Linked DNA regions of Homo sapiens: region 1 is linked to region 2. Evidence: fine-mapped expression QTL. A gene starts in region 2. The other region holds a variant in brackets. All regions are shown on one strand. Distances are between the middles of the regions.

Region 1 (2,913 bases), 79 kb before region 2:
CTATGGGCTGCATTTCAGCGCACTCACCCTCAATCATATGTCTTACATAGGACACATCTGTAAATGGTGAACCTGTCAACGGTAATGGTAATGTGTCATCTCTGCATTCACCACTTCTAATATTCTCACTGAAGTACTAGATGATAATTATATAGACATTAAATTATGAAACTCCTACAAATATTCCAGACCTTTCTTAGAACAGGCTAGGATCACCAGAATGACCCCCAGACATACCTGGCGTGAGTGAAGTTTCTTTTATTCAAAATTAGAAAGGCATGAGATATATGCTAAGAATTATTTATAGTTTAAGAATACTCATATTTTAACTTTTTTATTACTATTTTTTTTTTGAGACGGAGTCTCGCTCTGTCACCCAGGCTGGAGTGCAGTGGAGCGATCTCGGCTCACTGCAAGCTCTGCCTCCCGTTCATGCCATTCTCCTGCCTCAGCCTCCTGAGTAGCTGGGACTATAGGCGCCCGCCACCACATCCAGCTAATTTTTTGTATTTTTAGTAGAGACAGGGTTTCACCGTGTTAGCCAGGATGGTGTTGATCTCCTGACGTCGTGATCCACCCGCCTCAGCCTCCCAAAGTGCTGGGATTACATGCGTGAGCCACGTCGCCCGGCCTCATATTTTTATTCATTAAACGCTTTTTCACATAATATATAGTCCTGTGTGAATGCAAAATATCTGAACCAGGTTTCAGTCAATTTAGATAGTTTATTTTACCAAGGTTAAGAATGCGTCCATGACACAGCCTCAGAAAGTCCTGAGACATGTGCCCCAGGTGGTTGGGGGTACAGTTTGCTTTTATGCATTTTAGGGAGACATGAGACATCAATCAATATGTGTAAAATGTACACTGGTTCTCCGGTAAGGTGGAAGTGGGGCTTCCAGGTTAGGAGTAGCTAAGAGACAGAGGGTTGCATTCTTTTGAGTCTTGATCAGCCTTCCACTGAATACACAATTTAGTCTGCCTCAATAAATCTGCATTTTTACATAAACAATAGGGGAGAGAAGGCAATCATATGTGCATTTGTCTCAGGTGAGCAGAGGGATAACTTTGAAAAGAATGGGAAGCAGGTTTGCCCTAACCCGTTCCCAGCTTGACTTTTCCCTTTAGCTTAGTGATTTGGGGTCCCAAGATTTATTTTCCTTTCGCACCTGTAACTACACCTAGGGATCTCTGAAACTGTATTACTTTGAGGTGGTGTGTAATTTAGGAACAATTTTGTGTTAAATGAGATTGACATGACTTCTGGAATAAGGGCATGGGGAGTTTTGCAGACGCTCTCGCCAGCGGCAAAAACAAAAACAACCCTTTGAAGCCTCTGGAAAATGTCCTAAGACCACACAGCAAATGAAGAAACATTTATTTAAGAAAATCAACCACAGCTTAATAAGAACAGTGAGAATCTGTGCATTTGTGCCATGACCCGCTCTTTTCTCCCTTTTCCAACTACTTTCCACTTCTCCGAAGCTCA[G/C]AATAAGATCCACTTCATGTGGGTGCAGCCAAGAACACAAGACTCCCTCTCTCCTTAAGCTCCCAGTCAAGGAATGAAAGGACTGTGGTCTCTCCCTAAGAGGGACAGGCTTGTCAGCTTGTTTCATGTGCCCCAGTTCCACCTTGCACAGGCTATAATTCCAGATAAGAGCCAGAGAACTGGGGGCTATCTTCCTCCACCCAGCCCCCATTCATAGGTGGGAAGCTCTACCCAGGCACAGTAGGCTAAGAGTATTTAACCCCTGATTACCCTCACCCAAGAGCCAAGTGAAGAGGTTCCATCCCAGGAGAGGCAAGCCAAAAGACCAGAGGCTGCCACCCCAGCCCAGCATCAAGAGTCTGGCTCCAAGAGAAACAAACCACTGCCCTGCCCCCATCTCTGCAGCAGTGGCCCAGAGGTTTTACCCAAGATGCAGAAAGGAAGAACAGAGTTCTGAAGCTCTCCCCAAGTGAACTTGCTAGCAGGAGTAACTCTGTTTGGGTCTGCAGCAACCTCAATTCTTGCCCCCTCAGGAGAAAGAGTTCGACCAAGGGGCACAAGGCAGAGTGATCTTGGTTGAGGCAAATTTTAGAGCAGGAGTGAAAGTTTATTAGAAAGTTTAAAGCATAAATGAAAGAAAGTAAAGTACACTTGGAAGAGGGCCAACTGGGCGACTTGAGAGATCAAGTGCATGGTCTGACCTTCTGACTTGGGGTTTTGTATGCTGACATACTTCTGGGGTCTGGCGTTACTTCTCCTGATTCTTCCCTTGGGGTGGGCTGCCAGCATGGACAGTGGCCTGCTCGCACTTGGGAGGGGAGCGTGCACAGTGTGTTTATCAGAGGCGTTTGAACCACCCATCTTGAATGGGGGCTGGGTAAAATAAGGCTGAGACCTACTGGGCTGCATTCCCAGTAAGTTAAGGCATTCTTAGTCACAGGATGATACAGAAGATCAGTACAAGATACAGGTCATAAAGACCTTGCTGATAAAAACAGTTTGCAATAAAGAAGCCAGCTAAAACCCACCAAAACAAAGATGGCGATGAAAGTGACCTCTGGTGGTCCTCACTGCTACACTCCCACTGGCACCATGACAATTTACAAATGACATGGCAGCATCAGGAAATTAACCTATAAGGTCTAAAAATGGGAGGTATGAATACTCTATCCCTTGTTTAGCATATACTCAAGAAATAGCCATAAAAATGGGCAAACAAGCCAGCCGTGGTGGCTCATGCCTGTAATTCCAGCACTTTGGGAGGCCGAGGTGGGCGGATCACAAGGTCAAGAGATCGAGATCATCGTGGCCAACATGGTGAAACCCCGTCTCCACTGAAAATACAAAACATTACCTGGGTGCGGTGGCATGCGCCTGTAGTCCCAGCTACTCAGGAGGCTGAGGCAGGAGAATCGCTTGAACCC
Region 2 (2,913 bases):
CGTGCCACCACACCCGGCTAATTTTTGTATTTTTAGTAGAGACAGGGTTTCACCATGTTGGCCAGGATGGTCTCCATCTCTTGACTTCGTGATCCACCCGCCTCAGCCTCCCAAAGTGCTGGGATTACAAGCATGAGCCCCAGCGCCCAGCCAAATGTCTGCATCTTCATACAAAAATGCTTTGTTCTTTTCAGAAATGGTTTCTTAGAAATCCGAAAGCCAGAAAAAAAAAAAAAAAGCAGAATGTGGTTTACATCCATGTCTAACAATTGAAGAAGCTGTTACGGAATCTAAAGTTTGTTTTGTGATAATGAAGCTAGGACTAAAAATGTCCTTTTAAGCCATTACTTACACAAACACAAAATTATTCACATTTATGGTCCAACTGATAGTCATGAAAGTTAAGTTTGCATAGGGTCAGTACATTCTTTTTCCTCTACATAGGAGGTTGAAACTTGCCTTTAATGTTGTAACGTTGGAGCATATTATCCTGCATCTAAGTCTTAAAGGGTCTTTAAACCATAGCACTGGGAGGACGTAAGTCATACATTCTCCTTGTACAGGTTAACTCAAGAGTTTGGCATGTTAAAAGGCCACGTTGCCAAGGTTAAAATCCAACCATCTGACTGAAGTCAGAGTCTAAAAAAATTTTAAGCTTGCTCCTCCGTCAACTGGTTTCAAGGACATTCAGTTTCGTTTCATGCCAGGCTGTGAAGCTTTTCTTTTCAATGCTAGAACCTAACCATGGAAAGTGGAATTGAAAACAATTACACAGCGAATTGGCTTATGCGTGGACTTCGATCTGGGATCCACGAACATACCTAATGCTTGGCAAAATGGAGAGGGGTGCTATGTGTTATTATTATGTGTTATTATTAATCACATAACTGAACTCTGTGGCTCCAGGCCTTCCATGGCTCGTCTCCCAATCAATTCTTTTCAGAACTAAGAATCACGACAGGGGCCGGGCGCGGTGGCTGAGCCTGCAATCCCACCACTTTGGGAAGTCGAGGCAGGAAGATCGCTTGAGCCCAGGAAATTGAGTCCCCCTGGGCAACACAGCCCGACCTCGTCTGCAATCGATCAATCAATCAATGAGTACATAAATGCATAAGCCAATGAATGAATACGTGAATGAATAGATTAATAAATGAATGAAGAAGAATCACGGCAGAACTCCTAACCCCTAGCACGCCTGCCTAGGGGAACAGGAATAAGTCAGGAAAGAAACACTCTTCACTTCTGTGAGTTTTCTAAGAGCAGCAAACGGCGGCTGCTCACTTAGAGAACCTATGGTCTTTCCTGGTTTTAGAGGTCAGGGAAGCAGCTGCTAGCAGCAGAGACTCAAATCAAAGGGGAGTCCCACAAACGTTTTGAAGGCTGACATCAGAAGGAGCACGCACCAAGGGAAATTTCCCACCCCCCCGCGATACCGCAAATTCCCAGCCGCTGGCCGTTTGGGACTCTCCTACCGGAAGTGAAACCGAAGAAAACGCCACGTCGAAGGCGTGGGTTGCCGTAAGTGCGCCGTCGTCACGCGCCTAGCTTCCGGCGATGGGTGGTCCTGGGATCCGGAGGGGAGGCGGGGTGGAGGCGGGGCTTGGGGCTGTGGAGAGGCTGTGGTAGGTAGGTGGGTACAGACCGAGGGGACTACGGGTCGGCGTTGGGCTCAGTGGGCTCGAAACAAAGGGCTGTCCGGTGGGGATTCGTCGCGGCGCCTTCTGAGTGGTCGGGTCGAGGCTTCTCGGCCTAGCAGTGCCCTCGCTGCGCGATCTCAGGCGGGTTCTCCTCGGCTCCGCGCAGCCCGCGCCGCGGTGGGGGACCCGGCGCAGCGGCACCTGCTGCCGAGGGACCCCGCGGCCCGCCCCGGTGCTCGTGATGGGGCTGATCTTCGCCAAACTGTGGAGCCTCTTCTGTAACCAAGGTGAGAAGAATGGAGCTGCGCGGCGGCTCGAATCCGAGGCAGAGGGTCCCGCCGCCGATGGGGACACCGGAGACAGGGGACAGAGCGTTCGGAGACGCGGAGGAGGAAGGGACTTAGGCCAGGGGGCGGGCAGAAACTCAGTGTTTTAGACCTGGAGGACGTACAGGAGAGACCTGACGTGTGGGAGAAATAGGGAGGCAGAAGAGAAGGTATTTGGCGTCCCAGAATCCAAACTGAGAATGTTTGGATATTGGCGAAGTAAAGCGGGATACAGCTAATGATGCCAGGAGGCGTATGGAGGGCCTTTCTCGTCTTTATTGAAGCGTGCTTGTGTCTATGTGTATCCCCAGGATAAGTGTCCGCCCAGAAACCTAGAACTTTTTTTTTTTTGAGTAATGTAGGTGCTTTGTTTTCCCGCCCTGCAGTTTGAGCCGTAAGCCAGTGCACTTTCACTCTGATTTCGCCTCCTTTCCTCTAGGACTTGGGAATGAGTTGTCCTATTCAGATGCACGAGTTTTCCAGCATCTTCATTGTAAACTTTTTTTTTTAAAGCATTTAGTTCAGAAACTAAATGCTTTTCGGTTTTGTGTAAGACGTTACGTGTCCGTAATTAGTCTGTAACAGGTAATGAGACACCTGGAAGTGGCAGGTCCAAAGGGCCGAGAAGTTGCAAAACCTGTTCTGAATCAGAATGAGATGTGATGTCTTCTGAAGAGAGAAAACACCCAGACCAAAAAAGGGGCCGACGATAAGTTAAAGTTTGAGGCGTCCTTTGAACAGAATGGTTTCTTAGTAATTGAAACCAGTTTTGAAAATCAACTCGTTTCATTTTACATTTAAGAGCCGGGCATCGTTAATAAGCCAGTTTTATTTCCTTTTATGTTGGTACCAATTTGTTACTGCTAATGTAGGTATCTAATCTTTTTCTGGATTTAAGAAGTTGTGGAGGTAATGGAATGGCTTTAGTTGACTTGTTCTGTAGATTGATA

The links. PIP is the estimated chance that this variant, and not a neighbour inherited with it, causes the effect. A credible set is the group of variants that fine-mapping cannot tell apart.
Region 1: its variant is the best candidate, but not a certain one, in a credible set for the expression of ARL5B in whole blood (TOPMed, PIP 0.56).

The regions. Positions count from the first base shown.
Region 1 is chr10:18,578,838-18,581,750 of GRCh38, forward strand. The region is part of intron 8 of NSUN6 (NOP2/Sun RNA methyltransferase 6); the gene reads right to left. Among named protein-coding and RNA genes, the nearest start is that of CACNB2-AS1, 41 kb to the left of the region's middle. The variant G/C (reference allele first, on the strand shown) is at 1,490.
Region 2 is chr10:18,657,760-18,660,672 of GRCh38, forward strand. It overlaps ARL5B (ARF like GTPase 5B), which reads left to right and starts at 1,672. Exons shown (of 6, transcript NM_178815.5): 1 at 1,672-1,924. The coding sequence starts at 1,879. It also overlaps a transcript of NSUN6 not described here. RefSeq lists enhancers at 501-620, 1,321-1,450 and a silencer at 1,761-1,840.